Homo sapiens: one gene and its partners. The protein of the gene in region 2 interacts with the protein of the main gene of each other region in a biochemical or structural test. Each region holds a gene or a part of one and is shown on either strand. Other genes may lie near its edges.

Region 1 (7,072 bases), on a different chromosome or scaffold from region 2:
TTTGGGAGTCTGAGGCGGGCGGATCACGAGGTCAGGAGATCGAGACCATCCTGGCTAACAAGGTGAAACCCCATCTCTACTAAAAATACAAAAAATTAGCCGGGCGTAGTGGTGGGCACCTGTAGTCCCAGCTACTCGGGAGGCTGAGGCAGGAGAATGGCGTGAACCCAGGAGGCGGAGCTTGCAGTGAGCCTACATCGCGCCACTGCACTCCAGCCTGGGCAACAGAGCGAGACTCCGTCTCAAAAAAAAAAAAAAAGAATATGGATTCATGGCCGGGTGTGGTAGTTCACACCTGTAATCCCAGCACTTTGGGAGGCTGAGGCCTCCAAGAGTTCAAGACCAGCCTGGGCAACAGAATGAGACCCCCTTCTCTACAAAAAATACAAAAATTAGCCAGGTGTGGTGGTTCACAGCTATAATCCCGGCACTTTGGGAGGCTGAGGCAAGCGGATTGCTTAAGCTCAGGAGTTCAAGACCAGCCTGGGCAACATAGTGAGATCCCATCTCTACAGAAAATACAAAAATTAGCTGGGTGTGGCTGCACACTGCATGCCTGTAGTGCCAGCTATTTGGGAGGCTGAGGTAGAAGGATCGCTTGAGCCTACGAGGTGAAGGCTGCAGTGAGCCAAGATTGTGCCTGCACTCCAGCCTGGGTGACAGAGTGAGACCCTGTCTAAAAAGAAAAAAAAAAAAGAGAGAGACTATGGATTCCCCACAAAAATTACAAAAGTGTAGTTAAACTCACATACCTAATTTTAGGTGGGGTTTGTACTATCTATCTTTAGAGATCTCAAAGCAATGAGTATGTTGAAAATAATAGAATAGAGGACATGTGATGAATTAGGAGTCAAGCCAGTTATTCATACACCTATACAAAAGTGCCTGGAGTTTTTAAAAAAGCTGTAGGAAGAGAGGATGTAAACAAATGCTGCTTATAAATCATTTTTCTTCAGGCAGTGGGTAAAATGAGTGATGCATAGGAATTTGCATTTCTACATTGGCTTACGCTATCACATTTAATCATAACTTGATTTTCTTAATAAAACATTTCTTTCTATAGAACACATTTATTATTTACCATAATCATGTTTTAATTTTTTGAAACATCCTAGTCTATCATAGTTTTAGATATATTGTTGTTCATTGAGCTCATTTTATTTACTATTTCAAAGTTTTTTGATATTTAAACCTGTTTGGCAATTGAAATACCAAGCTCTGTTTTGTCAGGGTAACATGTTTACCACTTGTCACTTTCAGCCAGGTTTTTTTTTTTTTTCTTGGAGACGGAGTCTTGCTCTGTCTCAGGCTGGAGTGCAATGGCACGATCTTGGCTCACTGCAACCTCAGCCTCCTGGGTTCAAGCGATTCTCCTGCCTCAGCCTCCCGAGTAGCTGGGATTACAGGCATCTGCCACCATGCCCGGCTAATTTTTTTTTTTTTTTTTTGATTTTTGGTAGAGATGGGGTTTCTCCATGTTGGCCAGGCTGGTCTCAAACTTCTGACCTCAGATGACCCACCCTCCTTGGCCTCCCAAAGTGCTGGGGTTACATGTGTGAGCCACTGCATCCCGCCCAGGTTTTTAAAGGAACAATTAGTGGATGAGCTGAAATTCCATTTGAATTGTGCATGTGTATATACTCCCACATGTATTCATGTCAATGGCAGAGGTGGAGATGTATTAAACATCCTATTGACCCATTTGAGTTTGAAGTGATTTCCTAAAGGTTTTGCTGAAGTGATTGCCTATGGTGAATCAATTTAACCCTGTCTCATGCATACAGGAAACCAATAGACGTGGTGTTTCGTTTAAGTGACCAAAGCTCATTTCCTCTCTGCCCCAGTTAAGGTGGATAACAGTTCAATTTTGGTGTCTATAAAGAGGTTATCATGACCAATAAAATTAGAGCCTGCCGTGGCAAGTATATTCACTGCCATGGAATAGAAAACAAATTTAGGAGCTACTGTTAAGCATTCTGCTTGTAAGAAGACCTATTTAAGATAGGAAAACCAAATGAAGATTTTTACTCATTTTTCTCTGAATGCCCAACTGCATTTCTCTGAATATTTTACCTGCCATAACGATATGGGTTCTTTTCCTTTTTTTTTTTTTTTTCTTTTTTCTGAAACGGAGTCTCGCTCTGTTGCCCAGGCTGGAGTGCAATGGCGCAATCTCGGCTCACTGCAACGTCTGCCTTCTGGGTTCAAATGATTCTCATGCCTCAGCCTCCCGAGTAGGTGGGATCACAGGTGCCCACCACCACGCCCAGCTAATTTTTCTATTTTTAATAGAGACAGGGTTTCACCAGTTTGGCCAGGCTGGTCTCGAACTCCTTACCTCAGGTGATCCTCAGGCCTCGGCTTCCCAAAGTGCTGAGATTACAGGCGTGAGCCACCGCACCCAGCCTCCAGATACGAGTTGTTTTTTTCGAGTATTACTTTGTTAACTTTTACCCCAACCATTCATTTTCCCAATATTTTCAAACCCCAAATCACCCAGACACAATAAATGAGGTCTCTTTTCTTATCCATAGTGTCGGTATGAAAGTTTATTTTGAAGGTTTTTTTTTTTTTTTTTAGACGGAGTCTAGCTCTGTCTCCATGCTGCAGGGCAGTGGCGCGGTCTCGGCTCACTGCAACCTCCGCCTCCCGGGTTCCCGCGATTCTCCTGCCTCAGTCTCCCGAGTAGCTGGGACTACAGGCACACGCCACCACGCCCAGCTAATTTTTGTTTGTTTGTTTATTTATTTATTATTATTTTTGAGACGGAGTCTCGCTCTGTCATCAGGCTGGAGTGCCATTGGAGTGCAATGGCACGATCTCGGCTCACTGCAATCTCCGCCTCCCGGGTTCAAGCAATTCCCCTGCTTCAGCCTCCCGTGTAACTGGGACTACAGGCACGTGCCACCACCCCCAGCCAATTTTTTGTATTTTAGTAGAGACGGGGTTTCACCATGTTGGCCAGGATGGTCTCCATCTCCTGACCTCGTGATCTGCCCGCCTCGGCCTCCCAAAGTGCTTACAGGAGGACTACAGGCGCGAGCCACCGCGCCCGGCCAATTTTTGTATTTTTAGTAGAGACGGAGTTTCACCATGTTGGCCAGGATGGTCTCCATCTCCTGACCTCGTGATCCGCCAGTCTCGGCTTCCCAAAGTGTTGGGATTACAGGTGTGAGCCACCGCACCCGGCATATTTTGAGTTTTGAGTGGAGGATTAGACAGTCTTCTTCCTTCCCAAATTTGATTATGGGCTCCCTTTAGCCTTTTTCTTTGTTTTCTGTCTTTTTTCCACCACCACCCCGCCCCCGAGGCGCAGTCTCAAGAGGTCCTGAGAACATGTGCCCTGCTCTCTGTTTTAAGGATTAAAATAACTGTCGAGTTACATTGAATCTTTTTTGCCTATTCCATTTGGCTAGGTTAATTCCAGACCTTACACAAACATGTGCAGCTCTTACAAAATGTAGGTGAAGACAACATTTTTCTAACCATTCGGCTTCATGGGCTGTCACAGGAGAACTAAGTGCATGAAAAACCTTTCACAACATTGAAAGAAATTTTAAAAATCTGGTTGAAACACAATTAAAAATCCACAAGAGGGAGATGCTTGCTAAACCGTCAGAAAATAATTCCCTCGAGGGACCTGAGAGAGGAGCCTGGAGCCTTAGGAACAGCCACTGGGTCAGCCACGGGATTAAGGGTGGGAGGGAGCAGGAGTATATAGAGACGGGGGCTTGGTGGAGGAGTACAGTTGAAGGGAAAAGCGGGATGGGTTTCGTGCCTCTGGCAGCGAAGCGTGTACTTGGTCTAAGATCTTGAGCAGAAGGTAAGAGCGTGTTGCCAAAGCAGAGCTCAGTGCTCCCGATATATCTTCTGGTAGTCCCAGAAGAAATGGGGGTGGGTTGCTTTGAAGGCACTTCCGCTTAGCAACCCCACGCGGTTGCTAAGGAGGGGGCAGCCGTGGGGATAACCCGGAAGTGATGGTGTCAGTTTAACGCTGCCTGCCCAAAGTTTGTCCTATTAGGCCCGCCAGGGTACTCTGCGACTCCGGGACGAGGGCGGGGCCGCGCTAGTGGTTCCGGTTCGGCTCCAGCCGCCCCTCGGCTCCTCGCCTTCCCCCTCCCGTCCGCCTTCTCCCCTCCCTCCCGCTCCTGGGAAAGAGAGAAACCACCGCTGCGGGTGGGTAGAGAAGCACTTGGCGCCTCGGGGAGGGGACCGCGCCCGCCTCATTTGCGCCTTGCAGCACTGCTGGACCAGGTATCTGCCCGGCTTCGTCGGGGTTCTGTAGGCTGAAGTCTGAGGGGGTGTGTGTGTGTCTGAGGGGGTTGGTGGGGGGCCCTTTCCTGGGCGTGGGTGGGGGACGCCGTGATCCCGGGTGGGGCGCAGGCTGGCGTTTGTGTCTGTGGAGGGTTGCGGGGGCGGAATGGAGGGGCTGAGGGACACAGCGGGTGGAGAGTTTCGGTTAGCGGGGTAGAGGTAGGCGGAGGAGGCGCCCCTTCCGAGAAACTGACTCTAGCCGGTGTGGACCGGGAGTTTGCCACCTGGAGGGCTTACTCTGAAAGGGGGAGCATCCCCCGGGAGCCAAAAGGAGGGCACAGATCTCGTCAGGGTGACTGGGGCTATCCCGTGCTTCCATTGCCCTCTTTCCCTACCCACCCCGCTGGGACAGAGCTGGACTTCGAAGGTTGTGGGGGTTCTGAGTCGACTGGGTACCGCGGGGAGCCGCCCTTGGCGGAGCTTAGGGCACAAGAGTGGGTAATGAGACTTTCCTCTACCCAACTTCCGTACGCTTCCCCCACTTCTTCCTTTACTGTTTCCTCGCCCCCACGTCCTACAGGAGCAATGTCCCCCAAGTGGGCAGGCATCACAATGTAAAAGAGAGTGGAACTGGGTTTGTTGCCCCTAAATGACACTTAAGATGTTTGGAAAGTGCCTGAATGACATATTCAACCAAGTCTCCCAGCTCGATATTAATTCCGGTATAAATTACCTTAGAAAAGTGGAATTCTGAAAAGCATTTAACAATAGGCTAGTCCAGGTGTAGTCTTGTGTAGTAGATGTACGTGTTTATTTAAAAAGAATGGACTGGGGAAACCATATAGATGTATCACAGGTCTAGGCAAGACATGTTGAGGCAAGGCTTTTGCAGCCTCTTTCTTACCTGCCAGTAAACCTGTCCTAATTTAAATGAAGTAGAAAGATCCTCTTCATTTTTGTTTCAATCAGTGACTGAATACTAGGTGCTGTGTAGTGATGTCTCAGAACAGATATGTGAATTTTCAGAGAGAGAATGAATGTTCTGCTGTTGAGCCTGTGTCTTAATCTTTTAAGGAGATAATTGCGGTCAAGTGGAAGTATTGACTTTCAGGCAGATAAATCTTGGGTTGAACCTAGACTATGCCAGTTGCTAGTTACTGACCTTGGGCAAGTCATGGAACCTACCAGAGCTTTTGTTTCTTCATAAGTAGTATGAGTTAAAATTCTTACCTGTATTATAAGTAACATCCCATTTTAAACGGAACCACCTTTGAATTAGAAGATAAATTATTACCATTAATCATACACAGTCAAGGCAGCCCAGTTTTGTGAAACGAGGTTTGAGATAGGAAAGCAACCGGATAATTTTGAAAAAAAAATGCATACAATAGGACTTTCAGTGTCTTCTCGAAATTGATCGTAGGTAGCATGAAATTCAGTTATCAGTAGTTTCTTAAAATTCAAAATAATAAAGTAGAATATGGCCCATTTATTGAAATGAGCAAAATATATTTTATAGATTTTTCTCAGCTACACCATATTGGTGTTTATAGTATGGATTAACACGAAATACATGAAAAAGTAATGTATGTAAATCTTAACATCACATGTCTCTTTAAAGAGAATTAAAATTGGGGTGTAAAATAGAAGGTACTTGTTTTTTGTTTGTTTGTTTGTTTGTTTGAGACAGAGTCTTGCTCTATCACCCAGGCTGGAGTGCAGTGGCACGATCTCGGCTCAGTGCAACCTCTACCTCCAGGATTCAAGCGATTCTCCTGCCTCAGCCTCCTGAGTAGCTGGGATCACAGGCGCCTGCCACTACACCCAGCTAATTTTTTGTATTTTTAGTAGAGAGAGGGTTTTACCATGTTGGTCAGGTTGGTCTTGAACTCCTGACCTTGTAATCCATCCGCCTTGGTCTCCCAAAGTGCTGGGATTACAGGTGTGAGCCACCGTGCCCGGCCTACTTGTAATTTTAAGATAAAAATCAGCAGCATCAGCAGCACCTCTCATCTCAGTTAGATTTATGCTACTAGAAAAACTTATATAATATTCAGAAAACAAAATCGAATACATTTCTGCCTTTAAATCATTCCTTATTACGATATAGAAATAAATCCAAGAAACATGAAGTCTGTTTTTTATTTATTTTTAGTGACAAGGTCTTTCTCTGTCACTTAGGCCAGAATGAATGCACTGGGGCAATTATACTCACTGCAGCCTCAAACTCCTGGGTTCAAGCAAACCTCCTGCGTCGCCCTCCCAAAGTGTTGAGATTACAGGTGTGAGCCACCTCACCCAGCCCATGAAGTCTTTTTCTTTCTTTTTTTTTTTTTTTTTTGAAATGGAGTCTCACTCTGTCACCCAGGCTGGAGTGTGGTGGCACGATCTCGGCTCACTGAAACCTCCACCTCCCAGGTTCAAGCAATTCTCCTGCCTCAGCCTCCTGAGTAGCTGGGATTACAGGCACATGCCACCACATCCAGCTAATTTTTTTGTATTTTTAGTAGAGACGAAGTGTCATCATGTTAGCCAGGATGGTGTCTATCTCCTGACCTCGTGATCCACCCGCCTCAGCCTCCCAAAGTGCTGGGATTACAGGCATGAGCCACCGTACCCGGCCAAAGTCTTTATACTCATTTGTTTTGTGGATTTAAAATAATATAGTTATGTGTCACCTATTATATGTCAGATTTTCAGCTAACGTAGTTTGCTTTTTGAGGTGACTTATAGTTAGTTATTTTCAAATGTAATTTATACTCAGAGGACAAAAATCAAATAACTTCCTGTAATAATAGATGTTTGTGAGAATACAAAG
Region 2 (7,356 bases):
TCTCGAACTTTTGACCTCAGGTGATCCGCCTGCCTCAGCCTCCCAAAATGCTGGAATTACAAGCGTAAGCCACCACAACCGGCCCTGTATATTTCTATATACATAAATGTATGCTTTATATATGTATGTATATCTTAAAATACATACATATATGCATATATACACATATATAATATAAACAATTACAAAATGCCAACTTCGGATGATGATTCAAAAAACTAAAAATGTAAATAATTATGCTAAAGTGGCATATAAAAATAAATGAAATATCTCTGAGTCAAAGAAATCTGAACACTGACTAGATACTTCTTAGGTGTGGTAATAATATCGTAGTATCTATTTTTGGAAAGCTCTTGTTTGTTAGATATGCACACTAAAATCTTTGTGGTTCAAATAATATGATATCTTGGATTTTCTTCCAAATAATCCTGTGAGAGGAAAAATGGGTAGCTGTATGAATAAAACAAGATTGGCCATGACTTGAAAATACAGGTTGAACATCTCTAACCTGAAAATCTGAAATGCTCCCAATTCCAAAATATTTGAGCACTGACATGATGCCACTAGATGAAAATTCCACACCTGACCTCATATGATGAGCTGCAGTAAAACCTTTGCTTCATGCACGAAATTATTTTAAAATGCTGTATAAAATTACCTTCAGACTATGTGTGTAAGGTATATATGAAATATAACTGAATTTCATGTTTAGACTTGGGTCCCTCCCCCAAGATATCTCATTATGTGTATGCGAATATTCCAAAATCCAAAATGAATCTGAAATTCAAAACGCTTCTGGTCCCAAGCATTTCAGACGAGAGATATTCAAACTGTAGTTGAAGTAAGGTGATGGGTTCATTATACCATCCTTTCTACGGTTGTATAGGTTTGAAAATTTCTAAATAAGACAGTTTAAAAAGTCGCAAATAAAAACCTAAGGAGGAGGGGTGTGTTAGGTGACTTGATCAGTTAGTGACCTTAAAGCTAACCCTAGATGCCAAGTCTACCTCCTTAGTGTTCTCAGGGCTCTGAATCAACTTATTAATAAAGGGAGAAATATGAACATCAGTAATGTAACAGGGCACAAGGCCTCAGCTGAGTGGTTTCTCAAAAAATTATTAAATTGGTCAGGCATGGTGGCTCACGCCTGTAATCCCAGCACTTTGGGAGGCCGAGGTGGGTGGATCACAAGGTCAGGAGTTCGAGACTAGCCTGGCCAATACAGTAAAACCCCGTATCTACTAAAAATACAAAAATTAGCTGGGCGTGGTGGTGTGTGCCTGTAGTCCCAGCTGCTCAGGAGGCTGGGGCAGGAGAATCGCTTGAATCCAGGAGACAGAAGTTGCAGTGAGCCGAGATTGTGCCACTGCACTCCAGTCTGGGCAACAGAGCGAGACTCCGTCTCAAAAAAAAAAAAATTATTAAATTGATTTGAATGCAAGGTACAAATTTTTTTTTTTTTTGATACAGTGTCTCACTCTGTCACCTAGGCTGGAGTGCAGTGGCAGGATCATGGCTCACTGCAGCCTTGACCTCCCAGGCCCAAAGGATTCTCTCACCTCAGCCACCCGAGTAGCTGGGACCGAGTAGCTGGGACCACAGGCGACGCCCGGCTAATTTTTTTTTTTTTGTAGAGGCGGGGTTTTGCCATGTTTTCTATGCAGGCTGGTTTCGAACTCTTGAGCTCAAGCAATCTGCCGGCCTTAGCCTCCCGAAGTGCTGGGATTGCTGAGAATTAATATGTATGCACTGATGATCCTCTCAACAATCCAAAGCAGTAAAACTATTACTTCTGTTTGTGAGTGTGGAAACCGAATTTAGGTAACCAGACAGCTCAAGGAATAGGGCTGCTTTGAATGACGATTATCTTCTAGGCAATTTGCAGCAACGTCAAAGGGCAGGGCCAGTAACAGGGTGGGGTGAGGTCTCAAAAAATTCAGTAATCAAAATGAATAACATTAATGCAATATTTTTTAAAAAATTAAATCAATAATCTACAGCTCATGAGGTAAATAATATGCCCGCTTTTGTAAATAAAGTTTATTGGAAACAGGGATGGAATTAGGGTGAGGTGATTGAGGCAAGGTCGTGCAAATGACTGGTCGGATCTCGTCTTTGTTTAAACGTCTGATATTTTGTTCAATATCAAATCATAAAAAGTTTTTGCATTAATTTTGGTTTTTTAAAAATATTGCATTAAAATATGAGTTTGATTGAGGGTTTTGGCGCCCCTTTAAATTTTGCTCCTAAGGCGGGAGTGCCTTGCCCGAATCCGGCCCAGAAAGGACACAGCTCTGGAAACATCTGTTTTCTATGCCCAATTTCGCCAGGGAGCTGCCAGCCACCAGCCAGGAGCCCCAGCGGTGACTTCCCCACTCGGGGCCCGGTCGGAAAACGCAAAGGGCCTGCGCGCGATGACCTCCAGGGCCCCTCCCAGGCCCAGTGTGGAACTCCCTAACACCCTCGCTCGCCCTCTCTCTGCGGAGAATCCCCCCGCACCGCTGCGGCCGGGTTCGGCTAGAGCCTCCCGGCTTTCAGAGCACCCTGAGGGGAGGAGCTTCCGCGACAGGAAACGCGCCAAAGGGGAGGGCTGGCGGCAGGAACCGGCTGAAGAGGGGCTGGGCTGCCGGCAGTGCGCGCCGCAGAGACCTGGAGCTCTCCGGCCACGGAGCCCGAAGCGCGGGAAGCCCGGCGGCGGGACGGGATGCCCGGTCGGAACCCATCCCGGCCGAGTCTCGAGGCCGCGGGAGCCGGCGCGGCGAACGCCGGGAGCCGCAGTCCTCCCGCCCGGGCGCCTCGGGTCAGCGGGGTCTACCCCGGCCCCACCTAACCTCTCGGTGCCCGGCCTTCTAAGCCCCCGTGGGGGGCGTGTGCATAAACTCACCTCAGAACCCACCTCGCCTGTCATGACTTCTGCCTCCCCTGCGCTCCACTAGGGACGGAGCTGTCTCTGATTCCCTCAGCCGGAGAGCAGCGGCTCCCGCCGTCTCCAGCCCAGCAGTGCTGTTCTTGCTTTCCCGCCCAGCCAGAGTGGAGGTCCCACCCAGATGGTTTGCACCAATCCAGAGGGGGCTTTCCAGCGAGTCCCCGCCCCCTTCCGACCCACCAATCACGCAGCGCCTCTGGCCGCCCAATCTCCTATTACCCAGGCTGAGTTGGCGGGTCGCAGCTGCTGGTAGCGGAGCCTGGGGGAGCTGGAGGTGCACGGGGGCGGGGCAGTCGGTACCAGGCGAGCCGTGGTCTTTGACCTTTGACACTTGCCAAAGCATCGAGTGCGATTGGAGGGGTGAGTCTTTCGGGGGGAAGTGAGCTGGGAAACGGTTCCTGGGCACCTGGGAGTGTCCTGTACCTGAACTTTTTAGAGGAATTCCAAGGTTCCCGTGGGGATTTTCTCCACTGACTTCATTTCTGGAGCAGCTAGATCCTGTGTGCCTCTTGTACATGACACTTACCACTGAATATATATATATATATATATATATATATATATATATATATATACACACACACACACATATGTACACACATATATACATACACATATATACACATACACATGTATGTGTATACACACACACTTTTTTTTTTTTTGAGATGGAGTCTCCCTCTGTTAGCCAGGATGAAATGCAGTGGCGCGATCTCGGCTCACTGCAACCTCCGCCTCCCGGGTTCAAGCGATTCTCGTGCCTCAGCCTCCTGAGTAGCTAGGATTACAGGCACCCGCCACCAACCCCTGGCTAATTTTTGTATTTTTAGTAGAGACGGGGTTTCACCATGTTGGCCAGGCTGGTCTCGAACTCCTGATCTCAAATGATCCTCGCCTCGGCCTCCCAAAGTGCTGGGAGGCCTCATACCCCTCACAGGCGTGAGCCACTGTGCCCGGCCCACTTTTATTTTTTAAAGAGGGCCGGGCTCCATGGCTCACGCTTGTAATCTCAACGCTTTGGGAGGCCGAGGTGGGAGGATGGCTTGAGTCCAGGAGTTTGAGGTTAGAGTGAGTTATGATCGCACCACTGCACTTCAGCGTAGGCGATAGAGGGAGACCTTGTCTCTAAAGAAAAAAGTTTTGTGGGCTGCTCAGATACCAAAGAATATGGTTGGATAATCTTTATAATTCTCTGTAGAGTTAATTTGAGGATGTAGAAAGCACTCATCACTCCTAGAGGGCATTCTACCTTTAAACAAGGCTGGAAAAAGAATTGAAGCTCTGAAATCAGGTTTATCCCAGACACAGTTCTTTTTTTTTTTTTTTTTTTTTTGTTGAGACAGAGTCTCTCCCTGTCACCATGGCTGGGTGCAATGGCGTGATCTCGGCTCACTGCAACCTCCGCCTCCCGGGTTCAAGCGATTCTCCTGCCTCAGCCTCCTGAGTAGCTAGGATTATAGGCATGTGCCACCACGCTCAGATAATTTTTTGTAACTTTAGTAGAGACAAGATTTCACCATTTTGGCCAGGCTGATCTTGAACTCCTGACCTCGTGATCCGCCCGTCTCAGCCTCCCAAAGTGCTGGGATTACAGGTGTGAGTCACCGCACCTGGCCTATCCCAGACAATTCTAATCCCAGTTTTGCCACTGTGCTGGCCATTATTTTTTGCCTCTCCAGGTCAATTCTCTGTCCTTCCTTTACCCTGGTGTGTGTCAAGGCAAGGCTGACCTCTCTAGACTGTATTATCCCAGCTCCCTTGCCCTTCTGGTTGGGTCAGGCCCCTGTAAAGACACCTTATAAGGTTACTGTAAGGAGATGAGAGGCCACCAGGAAAGAAAGGTCAGAGTATTTATTGCTCACTTCACCCTCCATGGTCATATCCACTGCCAGTGTGGCCAGCTTGGCCCAGCTTGCCCAGGACTTTCCTAGTTTTAGCACTAAAAGTCCTGCATCCTGAGAACCTCCTCAGTCACAGGTATACCAAATGGTTGGTTCTTCACCCAATCCACTGGCCTCCTCTTCCAAGTTTCCACCTTTAGCTGGGTTCAGAAAAAAGCTCCCTCTCCACATCTTCATTTCTTTACTTCCCCACCATCTCTCAATCCACTTCTGTCCCCACCAACAAGAGCCCATCATCCATCCTCTTCTCTTTTTGTGTCTTGGTTTATCCACCTTTTCATCCATTTACTATTAATTTCTACATCAACGATTCCCAGGTATACATCTATGGCACTCCCCATCATATATGGAGGGCTAACGTTTATTGAAGCCTTACTCAGTGGCAGAAACAGTTGCAAGGATTTTATAAGTGTTATCTTATTTAATCTTCAGAGTAAACTTGTAATATTATTATCTCTTTCTTAGAAGATGAGGAAACCAGACTTTTAAAAGGCTAGAAACTGGTGGAGCCAATTTTCAGACTCTATGTGACTTCAGAGCTCATACCCCTCAGAAAGACCCTGCCTGAGCATCCTCTGTGTTCTGCCTCCTTATCCTATGCTGGTTTCCCTGATAACACTTTCCTTTGCCTGAAATTTTATTTATATCTATTTGTCTGTTGTTGCTCCAAGAGAACAGGCGTTTTGTTTTCTTGGCCTCTGTATCATTGCAACCTAGAATTGTCTTTCTTAAACTTGAGCATGCATCAGAATAATCTGAAAGGCTGGTAAAAACAGCTATTGTTGGGTCCTAGTGCCAAAGTTTCTGATTCAGTATGTCTGAAGTGGGGTCCAGAGATGTATACTTCTTTCTTTCCTTTTTTTCTTTTTCTCCCTGAGTGCAGTGGCATGATCACAGCTCACTGCAGCCTCAACCTCCCAGGCTCAAGCAACCCTTCCACCTCAGCCTCCCAAGTGGCTGGGACTACAGGTGTGCACCACCATGCCCAGCTAATTTTTTATTTTGTAGAGACGGGGTGTCACCATGTTGCCCAAGCTGGTCTCAAACTCCTGGACTCAAGCAACCTGCACATCTCGGCCTCGCAAAGTGCTGGGATTACGGGCATGAACCACCGTGCCCCACAGGAATGTATATTACTAACAAATTCCCTGGTGATGCTAGTGTTGCTGATCTGGAGACCACACTTTGAGAACAAAGGACTTAGAACATCCCAGGTTCAAGGTAGGAAAACTGATAAATATTTGTTGAACTAATTAATTCATTCACTTGACAACTTCTTGAGCTCCCTCTGAAAATGAATGAGTGAAATAATATTCCTTATATTAGTATTTTAAAATATCTTTGGGGAGCACCTTTTCACTCATCACAGAAGCTAAGAGAGAAAGCTCCAATTTGAACAATGGGTGGACATGGGTAAGCTAGGAAAGGAAAACCTTTCATTCAATTTTTATTGTGGTAAAACATATATAACATGAAATTTACCATCTTAACCATTTTAAAGTATGCAGTTCAGAAGTACATTCAAATTGTTATGTAACCAATCTACCAATCTTCAGAATTCTTTTCTTTTTCTCTTCTTTTTTTTTTTTGAAATGGAGTTTTGCTCTTGTTGCCTAGGCTGGAATGCAATGGTGCTATCTTGGCTCACTGCAACCTCTGCCTCCCGGGTTCAAGCAATTCTCCTGCCTCAGCCTCCCAAGTAGCTGGGATTACAGGCACCTGCCACCACGCCTGGCTACTTTTTTGTATGTATTCTTAGGAGAGACGGGGTTTCACCATGTTGGCCAGGCTAGTCTTGAACTCCTGACCTCAAGTGACCCATGCACCTCGGCCTCCCAAAGCGCTGGGATTACAGGTGTGACCCAACGGGCCTGGCCTAGAACTCCTTTCATCTTGCAAAACTGAAACTCTATGCCCATTAAGCAACAACTTCATACTCCTCCCATCCCCAGGAAACTTTTATTTTACACATTAACTTGTGCCAAGATAAAGTGAGTCTGTATTTAGAATTAGCAACCTGTATTCTCAATTTTGGTGAGTGGAACCATATCCACTCACCAGTTTAGAAACCTGTGAATCACCTTGACCTCTCTGTCCCTTCATTGTTGTAGTCATCCAACAATCCTTGTTTATCAAGTTGATAAATGGCAACAAAGGAAACATCTGGAGTGCTCACTTTACAGGGATTAGTCTGAACCTGTCCCATAGAGGGCTTCATAAACTTAGGTAACTAATTTAGTTTCTCAGAAATGTGTTCTTTTTTGGAGGTTGGGTGCAGTGGGTCATGCCTGTAATCCCAGAATTTTGGGAGGCTGAGGCAGTCAGATCACTTGAGGCCAGGAGTTTGAGACCAGCCTGGCCAACATGGTGAAACCCTGACTCTACTAAAAACACAAAAATTAGCCGGGCGTGGTGGCGGGCACCTGTAGTCCCAGCTACTTGGGAGGCTGAGGCAGGAGAATTGCTTGAACCTGGGAGGCGGAGATTGTGGTGAGCTGAGATCGTGCACCACTGCACTCCAGCCTGGGT
Region 3 (7,024 bases), on a different chromosome or scaffold from region 2:
TGGGTGAGGGGTAGAACCTCTCTGAGCCTCAGCTCTTTACCTGTAACGTGTGGGTGACAACAGTGCCCACTTTGTGAGACTTCTATGAGGACTAAGTTGTGACCACTTAAATGGTGCTCAGTGAATTTTAGTCATTGTGCATGTTATCACTCCCCAAAAAGAGAGGTGTCCAGGCAGTGCTGAGCTTCTCAAGCAGGAGCCAAAGGCCCAGCAGACTTCATCCTGGGACGGGACAGCAGGCAGGGGGTAGAGGGCGGAAGTTGTCCCCACATGACTGCCACTCCGTCCATGGTGCTCATTTCAGGCAGCACAAGAGGTGACCCAGCCAGGTCCAGCTCTGCCTGCAGGCCTGGCATGAAAGCCCAGGCTGTGGGCCATCTGGGGCAGGAGGCTGGAGGGCAGGAGCCATCAGCCCGGGGCTGAGGTGTACGCGTGGCTGCACTCTGTCTTGGTCTCATTATTTTATAAAATAGAAAAATGTGATTGGTTTCAAAAGGGTTCTCTAGATTTAAAAAAAATTTTTAATCAAACTTTTTACTTTAATAAAAGTGAAATTTTGCCTGTGGTTTGGGGAAATGAAACCCTGTGTCATTTTGGGTGCAACGCGGAGGCCCTGCAGCAAGGTTGCCTGGGTTCAAATCTCCCCTCCGCCGGGTGCAGTGGCTCATGCCTATAATCACAGCACTTTCGGAGCCTGAGGTGGGACGACTGCTTGAGCCCGGGAGGTCGAGGGTGCAGTAAGCCATGACTGCACCACTGCACTCCAGCCTGGGTGACAGAGTGAGACCCTGTACCCACCCTCCCCCACAAAAAAAAGAATTCCCCTCCACCATTTACTAGCTGTGTGGCCTGTGCAAGTGGCTCGGCCCCTGAACCTCAGTCTGTCCATCTGTGAAGTGGGGTTAAATGTCAGCAGGTTGCTGGGAGGCTCCACTGTCCTCACACGTGTGAAGGGCTTAGGAGTGAGAGCCTGGTCCGTGAGACCTGCCAACCAGTGCTCAGCTGCCATTGCGATTTTCCACTCTGGTTTTGGCGTCAAAGTCAGGCCTGGTGGGTCATGGCCTTGGGTGTCCCCTGGGCAGCTCAGATGGCTTACCTGCTGGGCATAGCCTCGGAACATTGGGTTGACCAACTTGATCCCATGAGACAGACTGGTGGGGACCACGTAGCTTGGCCTGTAGGAAGCCCAAACCCATTAGTCCAGGTAGCCTGCCTTGAGCTGCTCATTCCCGAGAGAAGCAGGCAGCCAGCCCGTCAGGCTGGATCAGAGTGTGGCGTTTCCTGACATTTGGGGAGGGGCCTACTCAGCCAGGAGCCCCAAGAGGCTCACACATCTCTACAGACAAGAAGAAAATGTCAAGTCATAGCTGCCTCAATTAAGCAAAGAGCTCAAATAAAATAGCATCATTTCCTTCTGGTGCACAACAAACTCGCCTAAACATGATTTGTTTTCATTCTGAAACACTTACTGTGGTTTTCTCATTTCAAAAGTAAGACATGTTCATTATTGACAAATCTAAAATTTCAGAAAAGTACAAGAGAAAAACACCACCACCAATGGCACCAGATACTTACCATTAGATTTCTGGTTCTGTGAAACTACAGATGCATATACAAAAATACATACAGATACACATTTAAACTTGGCTTCTTACACAAGCGGAATTATATTGTACCATGCTGGGTTTTTTTTTTTTTTTTTTTGGGACAGAGTCTTGCTCTGTTTCCCAGGCTAGAGTGCAGTGGCATGATCTTGGCTTGCTGCAACCTCCGCCTCCCGAGTTCAAGTGATTCTCCTGTCTCAGCCTCCCAAAGTGCTGGGAATACAGGTGCGCGCCACCATGCCCAGCTAATTTTTGTATTTTTAGTAGAGACGGGGTTTCACCACATTGGCCAGGCTGGTCTCGAACTCCTGACCTTGCGATCCACCCGCCTCGGCCTCCCAAAGTACTGGGATTACAGGAGTGAGCCACTGCACACAGACTTTTTTTTTTTTTTTTTTTTTTTTGAGACAGGGTCTCACTCTGTCGCCCAGGCTGAAGTGCAATGGCATGATCAAGCTCACTGCAGCCTGCCTCAACTTCCTGGACTCAAGCGATCCTCCCACCTCAGCCTCCTGAGTAGCTGGGACCACAAGTGCTCACACCACACTCAGCTAATTTTGTAGTTTTTGTAGAGGCGGGGTCTTGCTGTGTTGTCCAGGCCGGTCTCAAACTCCTAGGCTCAAATGATTCTCCTGCCTCGGCCTCCCAAAGTGCTGGATTTACAGGTGTCAGTGACTGCATCTGGCCCCACGCTGGTTTTTAATCTGCTTCTACATTTAATACATATTTCTCCCATGCTGGTTTGTTTTGTTTTTGTTTTTTTTTTTTTGAGACAGAGTCTCGCTTTGTCAACAGGCTGGAGTGCAGTGGTGCGATCTCGGCTCACTGCCACCTCCGCCTCCCAGGTTCAAGTGATTCTCCTGCCTCAGCCTCCCGAGTAGCTGGGACTACAGGCACACGCCACCACACCCAGCTAATTTTTGTATTTTTATTAGACACGGGGTTTCACCATGTTGGCCAGAACGGTCTCGATCTCTTGACCTCGTGATCCACCTGCCTCAGCCTCTCAAAGTGCAGGGATTACAGGCGTGAGCCACTGCGCCTGGCCCTACGCTGGTTTTTCATCCGCTTCTACACATAATACATATTTCTATGTGCTCATTTAAAATTATTCCCAACTTTGACTTTTCCTGGAGAAACAGATCTAATCACAGACTCTGATCTTTAAATTAATTTCATACTGTGCCAGAAGCTCCATCCAGTCTGTGCTCCCCTGCCCCACACCTCCTTCTACACACACAGTCCTGGCTGAGGCCGGGTCACCATGTCTCTTGGCAAAGACATCTACCAGTGGCTGCTCGGTAGGGTCAACAGTAGGTCAAATTCTAGCTCACTTTTTGCAGGTTCTATGACCTTGAGCAAGATACTTAAAGTGCTCTGCACCTCAGTTTCCCTATTTGTAAAACAGGACTGGATGCAATTTCCACCCCGCAGGCTTGCTGCAAGCATTACCCGGGACAAAGTGAGGCAAGTCCTCGCTGGGGGCTGAATCCACAGGAAGTACTCAATCATGGGTGCTGACAGGAAACCCCAGTCCCCACACACCGCCCAAGGCTAGGGATGCAGCTGCTCACCGTTTCTTATGCCAGACCTCAGAGACCAGCTTCTGGTAGCTCTTGCACAGGGCTGGCTTCTTATCTGTGCGCACCAGGCCGCCACACTCCAAGAAGAACTGAGTCAGCGGCGGGCTGGGTGCAGGGGAGAGAGAGCCAGGTCAGGAGAGCAAATGAGGCATGCGGCAGTTTAGAAAGGGCTGCATAGCGGGGAGCCCTGAGTGCTCGCACAGGGAGCACAGTGGCCCTGGACCCAGAAACTCCTGAAGGTGACTAGAAGGCTCCTACCAGTTATGAGAAAATTGTATCCTCCAAAATTCATCTGCGAAGCCCTAACTCCCAGAGACAGGGCATTTTTATTTTATCTCATCTTATCTATCTTACCTTATTTTTTTATTATTATTATTATTATTTTGAAACAGAGTCTCCCTCTGTTGCCCAGGCTGGAGTCCAGTGGTGCAATCTTGGTTCATTGCAACCTCTGCCTCCCGGGTTCAAGTGCTTCTCCTGCCTTAGCCTCCCGAGTAGCTGGGATTACAGGCACATGCCACAATGCCTGGCTAATTTTTTTGTATTTTTAGTAGAGACAGGCTCTACTAGTTGGCCAGGCTGGTCTTGAACTCCTGACCTCAGGCGATCCACTTGCCTTGACCTCCCAAAGTGCTGGGATTACAGGCGTAAGCCACGGTGCCCAGCCAAGACAGGGCCTTTAAAGAGGTTATTAAAGTTAAAACGGATTGGGTGCGGTCAATTTTTCTTTTTTTTTTTGAGACGGAGTCTCGCTCTGTCACCCAGGCTGGAATGCAATGGCATGATCTCAGCTCACTGCAACCTCCGCCTCCCGGGTTCAAGCGATTCTCCTGCCTCAGCCTCCCCAGTAGCTGGGACTACAGGTGCGTGCCACCACGTCCAGCTAGTTTTTTGTATTTTTAGTAGAGACAGGGTTTCACCATGTTAGCCAGAATGGTCTCTATCTCCTGACCTGGTGATCCATCTGCCTCGGCCTACCAAAGTGCTGGGATTACAGGCGTGGGCTACTGCGCCCAGCCTGGGTGTGGTCAATTATTAACAATAATTGACCTGCATCCTGCCACCTGAGGATAGTTACTAGGAACATTTTGGGACATAGCCTTCCAGACTTTTCTACGCATTTGTACCCATTCCCTCTCTGCTTCCCGCATACATATACTGCATCTCTAACCTCCACTGGGTAGGAGAAGCACGTCAGACACAGGAGACATCCTTGGCCTCATGGAGCTCACAGCCTTATCCTTAATGGAAAATCGCATTTCTCCCATAAAACGGGATTGTACCATGCAATGCTTTATAACCTCCTTTTTCCCCCACTCACCAGATTCTGAACCCCTTCTTGTTTCAATGCATGTTGTCTTGTGCCATTTTTCCTGCACTTGCTGCAAGGGCTATGAGAATTTATACTCTCTTGCAGATGGGCCTTTAAATCATTTCCAGTAAACAACAGAGCACTGAGCCTCCTTGCACGTACAACTTCCCCAGCATCTCCGGTTATCTCCTCAGGATACATTCTGACTGGGAGGATTGCTGGGTCAAAGGGTATACATGCTTTCAGGCATTTTGCTGTGCATCCTATACATGTGTTTGTGGGCAACCGGCTGGGGGCTGCTACTGCTGCTGTTTCCGGGGCTTTGCCAGGGACAGCTCTCGGCCCTCGGACAAAGTGTCGACCTACCAATTGGACAGGGCCTGCAGGGCAGCGTTCATGTAGCAGGAGTTCCCGAGGTTCTTCATGCCCGTGAGGCCTGGGAAATAAACACAACGGGGAGGAGCAGGTGAGCACCCTGCCCCACCGAGGAAACCTTGCAAGTCACATTTGGCACAAAGGTGTGGCTCTCAACTGCCCAAGACCCAAGAAGAGGACATGGTGGAAGCGTTCCACCCCAGGAATCTTCCCAGTAAACTAACGTGGTTCCTGCTCACAACAGCTGCGGTTACCTGAGTGTTTTAAACAGATGAACTCCTTTGCCCCTCCGCCCAGCCAGGCCCACTGTCCAGACCATACAGCAGAGGGGTCGGCCTGCCCAGGGTCACCCAGCTGGGAGAGGGGACAAGATAGCCAGCTCTCCAGAACCTTAGCTAGGCCAGCCAACTTCTGGGGTGAAGCCACCATGCTAAACAGCTTATCCGTCACCCCATCCTTCCTTGCCCATATAGCAGGTGCAAATAGAGACCAAGACTCTGGCGGTTTCCAGCCTCCAGATGAGGGCCCCCAGCCCAGCCCATCAGCTTCCCCTGCTGTGGGGGCCATTACCTCGAGGTTTCAGGTCATCGTCCTCTGACTCAGACTCTCCTTCATCAGCCACAGCAATAGGAACAGCTTTCAGAGGGTGGGAGGGTGGCGGGGAGTCCTGTGTTAAAGACCCAAAGTGAGGAAAACAGTGAACAGAGGGGCTGGGGTCAGAGGCCCAGGTGTCTCCCAAGGGCTGGAAGTCCAGCCCTACTGCCCGGAAGGCCCTACTGGGCTGAGCCAGTCCAGCTGAGCAGAAGGTACTGTGAAAAGAGATAGGATTGGTGGCCTTGCCCTGGGAACTCCTTGATTTGTGTGTGTCTGTGTTTTTTTAGAGACAGGGTCTTGCTTTGTCACCCAGGCTGGAGTGCAGTGGCACAATCAGAGCTCACTGCTGACTCCAACTTCTGGGCTCAAGGGATCCTCCCACCTCGCCCTTCTCAGTAGCTGAGACTACAGGTGCATGCACAGCACCCAGCTAACCTTTTTATATTGCCCAGGCTGGTCTCAAACTACTGGGCTCCAGTGATCCTCCCAAAGTGTTAGGATAACATGAGCCACTGTGTCCAGATGTTGACTTGCATTTTTTTATTGGCAATAAAAAAAATATTTTATTTATAATAAATTTGGAGAAAAATAGAAACATAAACATGCAACCCCATTTTCCTGAGAGAACTGCTGTTAATAGTCTGTATGTATCTTATGTAGACGTTTTTTTTTTTCTTTTTGAGACAGAGTCTCGCTCTGTTGCCCAGGCTGGAGTGCAATGGTGCAATCTTGGCTCACTGCAAGCTCCGCCTCCCAGGTTCATGCCATTCTCCTGCCTCAGCCTCCTGACTAGCTGGGACTACAGGTGCCCGCTACTATGCCTGACTAATTTTTTGTATTTTTAGTAGAGACGGGGTTTCACCGTGTTAGCCAGGATGGTCTCGATCTCCTGACCTCGTGATCTGCCCGCCTCGGCCTCCCAAAGTGCTGGGATTACAGGAATGAGCCACCGCGCCTGGGCTATGTGGACTTTTTTTAAGAGATAGAGTCTTGCTCGTCGCCCAGGCTGGAGTGCAGTAGCACAACTATAGCTCACTGCAACCTTGAACTCCCGGGCTCAAGTGATCCTCCCACCTCAGCCTCCCAAGTAGCTGGGATTACAAGCATGCGCCACCATGCCTAGCTAATTTTATTTTTTGTAGAGACAGGGTCTCACGCTGTTGCCCAGGCTGGTCTCAAACTCCTGGGCTCAAGCGATCCTCCTGCCTTGGCCCAGCAAAGGGCTGGGATTACAGGCATTAGCCATGGCGCCCAGCCTGTATTATACAGACTTTTAACTGTTAATACACATGCACAACAAAAACAAGATATTGCATATACTGTTTTATAGCCTTTTCTATAAAAATTCATAAATATCTACCAAGTTCACAAATGCATTCAATAAGCATTTTGAGCAATATTGAGCCCTATCATGTGACTGTCTAAACAGAAGGAGAGGCCAGGTGCGGTGGCTCCTGCCTGTAATCCCAGCACTTTGGGAGGCCAAGGCAGGCGGATCACTTGAGGTCAGGAGTTCAAGACCAGCCTAGTCAACATGGCAAAACCCTGACTCTACT
Region 4 (7,392 bases), on a different chromosome or scaffold from region 2:
ACCTCCAGTGCCTACAATACAAAGTCTTTCATGAATCTCTCTCCTGTTTACCTCTCACGCTTCTCTCTCAAGCCACTACTCTATCTAGAATGGCCTCCCATCCAAATATCAGCTTAGCTCTGAAGACTCTGTGCAGGCCAGGCGCAGTGGCTCATGCCTGTAATCCCAGCACTTTGGGTGGCTGAGGCGGATGGATCGCCTGAGGTCAGGACTTCAAGACCAGCCTGGCCAACATGGTGAAACCCTGTCTCTACTAAAAATAAAAAAAATTAGCCAGGTGTGGTGGTGGGTGCCTGTAATTCCAGCTACTTGGGAGGCTGAGCCAGGAGAATCGCTTGAACCTGGGAGACCACGCCACTGCACTCCAGCCTGGACAATAAGAGCAAAACTCCATCTCAAAAAAAAAAAAAAAGACTGCCCAAAAGGGACTTCCTCCTGACTTCTCCATACAGAAGTGACCTCCTTTTCCTTAATGTCTACTGTGTACCATATTCAGACTTCCAACATGGTACTTACAATTCATGTTGTATATAATAGTTAAAATCAAAGTCTATCTCCCTCCATTAGCCTTAGATTCCCTGAGGACAGGAATTCTTTTTATTTTTTTTTTTTTTGGAGACGAGTCTCACTCTGTCACTCAGGCTGGAATGCAATGGTGCAATCTCGGCTCACTGCAACCTCCGCCTCCCGGGTTCAAGTGATTCTCCTGCCTCAGCCTCCCAAGTAGCTGGGATTACAGGAAAATGCCACCATACCCAGCTAATTTTTGTTTTTTTTTTTTTTTTTTTTTTTTTTTAGTAGAGATAGGAATTCTTATTCACCCTTGAACTTTCAGAGCCTTGCTACAGGATCAGAATTTCCAGCGATGGGGCTTAGGCAAGTGTTTTGACAATGTTCCTCAGGTGATTCTAACTATCCTATGTTAACTGCACGAAAACGTAAACTCTTTCACATCAGGAATCATCATTACGCAGCACAATGTAAGTGCTCAATAAATGCTTTACTAAATTGAACTGAAACAGAGAAGTCTGGAAGATGAGGGAGAAGAGTTTGGAGCTAAAGATTTGGAGGCATCAGGATGTAAGATGGTGTGAGTGCAGTGAGAGGAGGAAGGAAGCCAGGAAGGACTTCTTGATGACCCTTTCACTGTAACCACAGAAGACTCAATTACATGTGTTTTCCTTAGGACTTGAGTTCCTTAAGGGTCGGGAACTCTCCATCCTACTCATCTCTGTAAGCCTGGCGCTAAGCACAGTGCATGGTACATGTTAGGAGCTCAGTAACCTTTTATTGATCTTTTATTGAGCTGTATCAGTGCCCCTGGTAATAGAGGGGGGTAAAAAACTTCAGGGACACACAGGAAGAAGTGACTAACTTGGCATAGGAAGCTGGATACATTGATTTTCAGAGGGACAATTAAGCTCAGTCTTCAAAGAGAAGTTCGCTTGGCAGAGCAGTGTCAAGATCTTCCAAGCAGAAGGAACAGCAGGAACTAAGTACTGAGATATGAAAGAGGGCAGCCACAATCTTTCCACGTGGCCAGGAGTCAGGTGCGTAAGAGATTTACAAAATGAGATTGAGAGGGTCAGGGCCAGACTGAGAGGCCACAGACACCCACCTACGGATTTAAGGCTAACTGTGGGTGGTCAAAGAGGAGTTTTAAATTTAACATCAGATGATCTACCTTTACTTTGTACAAAGTACTAGTAGGGCCGGGTGTGGTGGCTCACACCCGTAATCCCAGCACTGTGGGAGGCCGACGCGGGCGGATCATTTGAGGTCAGGAGTTCGAGACCGGCCTGGCCAACATGGTGAAACCCCATCTCTACTAAAAATACAAAAATTAGCCGGGCGTGGTGGCGGGCAGCTGTAATCCCAGCTCCTGGGGAGGCTGAGGCAGGAGAATCGCTTGAACTGGGGAGGCGGAGGTTGCAGTGAGCCGAGATCGGACCACTGCACTCCAGCCTGGGCGACAGAGCCAGACTCCATCTCAAAAACAAAACAAAACAAAACAACCAAAAAAAACAAACAGGCCAGGCGCGGTGGCTCACGCCTATAATCCCAGCACTTTGGGAGGCCGAGGCGGGCGGATCACGAAGTCAGGAGTTTGAGATCATCCTGACCAATAAGGTGAAACCCCCATCTCTACTAAAAAAAATACAAAAATTAGCCGGGCATGGTGGCGCGCGCCTGTAATCCCAGCTACTCAGGAAGCTGAGGCAAGAGAATCGCTTGAACCCGGGAGGCGGAGGTTGCAGTGAGCCGAGATGGCGCCACTGCACTCCATCCTGGGCGACAGAACGAGACTCCGTCTCAAAATAAAATAAAATAAATAAAAAATTGAAAGTACTAGTCGAAGCACGAATGGCAAAGAATTGAGAGGCTCAAGGAAAAAAGCTTCATTAGCGGCTGAGGTCCAGGTGACAAACCCGAACAAGGCAACGAAGGGAGGGAGTGAGAAATCCGTTCCATAAAACCCACGATATAAGTAAAGCGGCCTGTGAATTCCGACCACTGCTGACCGCCAGGCCACACACCGGTTTTTTTCAGGAGGTCTCAACTAGATGCTAAGCTCCGAAGTGGAACTCCCTCAGGCACTTTCTGTTCTAATTCAGGAATTCCAAGCCCCTTTCCATCACAACCCCATCCCGCGGGAGACCCAAGCTGTGCGGAGCAGCGTAGGGCTAAGCCCGCGTCCGGTGAGACCCGGGAACGCGGCGCGGGAGACTAAGGAGCAGAGTACAGAATTGCGCGTGCGCGCCTGCAGCACGAGCCCCGCCCCCTGGCTCTAAACCGGGTGGCGGGAAAAGGGACTCAGCGTTTCCCGAGAATGCCCCCATAGCTTCGAAAGGATCCCCGTGTCCGCTTAGCGCCCTCTCGCCACACACTCACTCACCCGCTCCCTGCGGGTCCTCAGAAGCCCGGAGGAGCCACCGGCCCTCTGGCGCGGGGCCGCAGCCTTTCCGCCACCAGGCTCAGCTGGACCGGTCCCCGCCTGCGCGAAGAGCGAGGCGGGGCGAGCCGGGCTGGTCCACGTGACTCCGAGCGAACTGGGGCGGAGATTGGTGAAGAAGGAAGGAAAAGGGAAGCGAGTGCAGGGACTGTTTTATGTGAGGTCGATCTAAAAATCACAGCGCTATGAATTTTCTGCTGAATTATAGTAGAATCAAAGTCCGATTAGAGGTGAATTTACAAACATTCTTCCCCTTCTTCTAGTCAAGCGGACTATTCCAAGTCTTAAATAGTTAGTTAGAAAAGTTAGGTTTTATTTGGGAGGAAGTAAAGAGCTGAAGTACAGGGAGGAATGGTCTTCTGGGATAGGGGATGTCCGTTGTATTATAGGTATAAATTTAAAGCTTTCAAAGTATGCAAGAGGCTCATAAAAGGAAGAAAGCAACCGTAAATATTCATTGAACAGTTGAGGGTCTCTTCTGGCCTCTGCTGAGATGATCTTGCCAAAAGGAAAAGAAAATAGGGCTGTGCTCTGGCCCCCTGTAATCCCAGCTACTGGGGAGGCTGAAGCAGGAAGATCGCTTGAGCCCAGGATTTCTAGACTGTAGTGTGCGATGATCGTGCCTGTGAATATCCATTGCACTCCAACCTGGTCAACATAGTAAGACCCCCTCTCAAAAAAAAAAAGAAGATAGGGCTCAAACAAATAATAATCTCCTGAATTATTAAGCATTTGAATAGAAGGAATCAATTTCTGGGGTATGAGGGAGTTAGAAGAGATTTGCTTCAAGATGAAAGGACGGATGACAGAGAAATGAAAATACACAGACACAAAACAAGAAAAAAAACACGGAACTAGTGATAAAAGCAGAAAGATGCCATTTGAGGAGTGTTTTGATTTGCTCTAAATAAATTAGAACAGAGTCAAAGCCTCTCCCCTCATGCCCCCTACTACCACCCGTTCATTTATTTGCTCCAGGAATCAGATTTCCTGTGTTGGCCTTAGGGAACAATTGTGGGGCTTAAATACCATCTGCCAGGCAGCCACAACAGTGGATGTCAGGCTGACCAGTTAAGCTGCTTAATTTTTCTAGATTCTAGGCTTGCCCAAGCTCTATTTAGGTTGGAAGCTCTTTGGCCCAGGACCTCTGAAGAGATCCATTATGTCAGAATGAACACAACCAGCCAGCGGATGTAGACAGGTTTACGTGGCTTTACAGAACAGCTAAATCCTAGTGTTCACTTTTCTCAGAGCTACTTCCCCACCCAAGTCCCTGGGGCAAGCATCCCTAAGATAAGTAGGCTATATATTCCCATTAACTTCCCCCCAATTCTTCGGTACACCTACATCCTGATCTGGGGCTAATACTCCGTTTTCACCACCCACCTCCCTTGAGTCCCTTCTCCTAACCCTTGGAAGCCTTGTCTCCTCCACTTCTCTCCATCTGCCTCGTGTGAGGAGTAACTCCCTGCTTCTCTGTTCCCTCAGAAATCAAGAGCCACACACTTGACTGGCAGCAGGGTAAAGGCCAGAAACTTAAGGTGTCGGTTACCCAGTACTCACCATACTGGGTCGAGGAAGGGAGGTATAGGATGGCACCTCTTTTTGCTTCCTTAGCTCTCATGCCCCAAAACTCAGACACAGCCACACTCACATTCATATGCACAATCAGCACACACGGCGAAGGGTGGTGGGATGGGGAGGAAGGGAAGTTTGCACCAACCAGCTCATGAATGCAACTTGAAAGATTTCACACAGCAAAAGGAAAAAAAAAAAAAAAACAACCACATACATAAGTTAAAAAATAAAGAAGTACATGACCCTCCCCACAGTCTCTTTCTTCATCTAGGGGCTGGCTAAACCCCTCCACGTAAACTCAGAAGCTTTCTACTCCCTCTATTCAGCTGGAGCTTCTACAGGGCCTGGGTGTTCAGTTCAACAGGTTCCCCTGTGACCTCTGGTTGTCCATTGGAGACATCGGGTTTGGCACCCTTGAGGACAGACAGTCTCTCAGAAATACTCTTGAGCCGGGGGAAGAGAAGAAAGTCGTACAGGAGGCTGCCCAGACCCCCTCCAATGATTGGGCCTACCCAGTACACCTGTAGAAAGAGAAAAGGAATACTCAGGCTTGGGGAGGGGACAGAGTAGCAACGCTGCTCTTTTTCCAGCCACCTTAGTGGAAAACAAGATATTGTACACTTGATATCTACAATAAACTCACCATTTATTTTCTGATTCATCAAATTACTCCTTTATCCCACACCTTAGCATGTGTATATTCTATTTGTTATCAATTTGCACTAGTTTGTATGTTGCTTTCAAAAAAATTTTATACATTGTGGTAAAACACATATAAAATTTACCATATTAAATATTTTTGGACAGGCGCAGTGGCTTATGCCTGTAATCCCAGCACTTTGGGAGGCTGAGACGGGCGGATCACAAGACGGGCGGATCACAAGGTCAGCCATTTGAGAACAGCCTGACCAACAGGGAGAAACCCCATCTCTACTAAAAATACAAAAAGTAGCTGGGCGTGGTGGCAGGCGCCTGAAATCCCAGCTACTCAGGAGGCTGAGGCAGGAGAATTGCTTGAACCCAGGAGGCGGAGGTTGCAGTGAGCTGAGATCCTGAGATCAAGCTCCACTGCACTCCAGCCTGGGTGACAGAGGGAGACTCCATCTCAAAAAAATATATATATGTTTTTAAGTGTACAGTTTAGTAGTGTTAAGTATATTCACATTGTTGTGCAACCTATGTCTAGAACTTTTTCATCTTGCAAAGCTGTAACTCTATACCCATTAAACAACTGCCTATTCCACCCCACCCCCATCAGCCCCTGGTAACTATCCTTCTACTTTGCGTCTGTGAATTTGAGTACTCTAAATACCCCATATAAATGTAATCATACAGTATTTGTCTTTTTGTGACTGGCTTATTCACTTAGCATAATGTCCTCAAGATTCATCCATGTTGTGGTATGTGTCACAATTTCCTTCCTTTTTACAGGTAATATTCCATTTATGTATATACCACATTTTGTTTATCCATTCATCCACTGAGGAACACTTGGGTTGCTTTTACCTCTTGGCTATTGTGAATAATGCTGTTATGAAAATGGGTGTACAGCTTTGAAAAATTTTTAAATTATTTCCATATGTTTGGCTTGCACAACATCAACATAACCAATATTTATTGAGTGCTTACTTTATATCAGATTCTGTGCTAAATGTTTCTCACATATAACTTTCACACATTTCTCGTAATGTCCCATTTTATAGTAAAACAAACTGAAGCACAGAGTGATTATTTGCCCATGGTCACACACAAAGCCGATAACGTATTAGAACTGGAATGGGGCTGAGGCCCATCTGTGCTCACAACACATCTTGATCTCTGAGAGCAGAATTTATTCTGCTCATATTTAGTTGTCTCTCTTCATACCCGCTAGTTCAGCAACCAGTGAATACTCAGTGCATACTCCCTGACTAACCAGAGAAGGAAAAATATGAGCAAGAGCCTCTCCTTCTAGCAAAATCATGAATCCTGCTCACACAGGCATGCCAAACTCTCTGACAGCCCCCTTAGCTGAGTGCTGGTACAGCAGCCAACACACGCAGAAGGAAAGCAGGAATCCAGCCTGGAACCTGCAGTCCACAACCATCCAGAAGGGCTTCAGGATCTTGCCCCTCTCCCTTCACTCACCCAGTGGTTAGTGAAGTTCCCAGTGAGAATGGCAGGAGCAAAGGAGCGGGCAGGATTCATGCCTGCACCAGTATAATACATCTGCAAAAGAGACAGTTGTAACTGAGACACCCCCCTACTGCACCCCAGCTTCTCTCCCCACAACCCACATTGCCCCTGAGAGCTGCCATCTTTTCTCCAGCCAGCAGCAAGTGGAGAGGGACAGCCTGCATGACTCTCCAGGGGTTCCTGCAATGGGGTGAGGGCAACTGATGCCCTGTCTGGGAACAGACTATGGATCCATAGGCAAAGCCCATGTCTAGCCATGATACGTTCATTTCTACCTTGGGGTCAAGAAGGACTAGATATAGCAGTCACAAGAGAGGGATAGGGCAGAGTTGATTCCTTTGTGCCAGTAGAGAGTGCAATGGACAATGTTCATGTTTGACAGTGAAGTAGGCAGGAAGAACCCTTAAAAGTTGGGAAAGGTTTAGGGGCCCCGGAATCCTTGAATGAGAAGTTGCTCTCCTTCCTGCTTACCCCAAAGAGGTGCCCCAGGGCAAGGGAGAAGCCAACGGCCAGGGCCACGGAGCCCAGTTGGCCATTCCGCCTCTCGTCGTATGTGGCAAAGATGCAGAGCACGAACTGGAGCGTCAGGAAGATCTCCACTGTGGTTGCCTGGCCCACGCTCACCGCAGGGTGCAACTGTGCAAAGGAAGAAGAAGAGAGACAGCTCAGGAGGGCTGCCACAGTGT

The links.
Region 1: of the proteins of CLSPN (region 2) and CSNK1G1, one has a biochemical effect on the other in vitro, tested with the Homo sapiens proteins (2 studies listed by BioGRID).
Region 3: of the proteins of CLSPN (region 2) and USP20, one has a biochemical effect on the other in vitro, tested with the Homo sapiens proteins (2 studies listed by BioGRID, with this or other methods).
Region 4: the proteins of CLSPN (region 2) and TIMELESS form a complex in vitro, tested with the Homo sapiens proteins (one study listed by BioGRID).

The regions. Positions count from the first base shown.
Region 1 is NC_000015.10:64,353,170-64,360,241, reverse strand, and holds the start of CSNK1G1 (casein kinase I isoform gamma-1), read left to right. Parts: upstream 1-4,068; 5' UTR 4,069-4,254; intron 4,255-7,072.
Region 2 is NC_000001.11:35,766,963-35,774,318, forward strand, and holds the start of CLSPN (claspin), read right to left. Parts: upstream 3,017-7,356; 5' UTR 2,909-3,016; coding exon 2,885-2,908; intron 1-2,884.
Region 3 is NC_000009.12:129,859,454-129,866,477, reverse strand, and holds part of USP20 (ubiquitin carboxyl-terminal hydrolase 20), read right to left. Parts: intron 5,542-7,024; coding exon 5,445-5,541; intron 4,936-5,444; coding exon 4,866-4,935; intron 3,293-4,865; coding exon 3,179-3,292; intron 1,176-3,178; coding exon 1,097-1,175; intron 1-1,096.
Region 4 is NC_000012.12:56,446,414-56,453,805, forward strand, and holds the start of TIMELESS (protein timeless homolog), read right to left. Parts: upstream 3,014-7,392; 5' UTR 2,897-3,013; intron 1-2,896. Other genes in the region: MIP (lens fiber major intrinsic protein), read right to left, coding at 4,867-5,052, 6,659-6,739, 7,178-7,342. UniProt on the Homo sapiens protein: Plays an important role in the control of DNA replication, maintenance of replication fork stability, maintenance of genome stability throughout normal DNA replication, DNA repair and in the regulation of the circadian clock.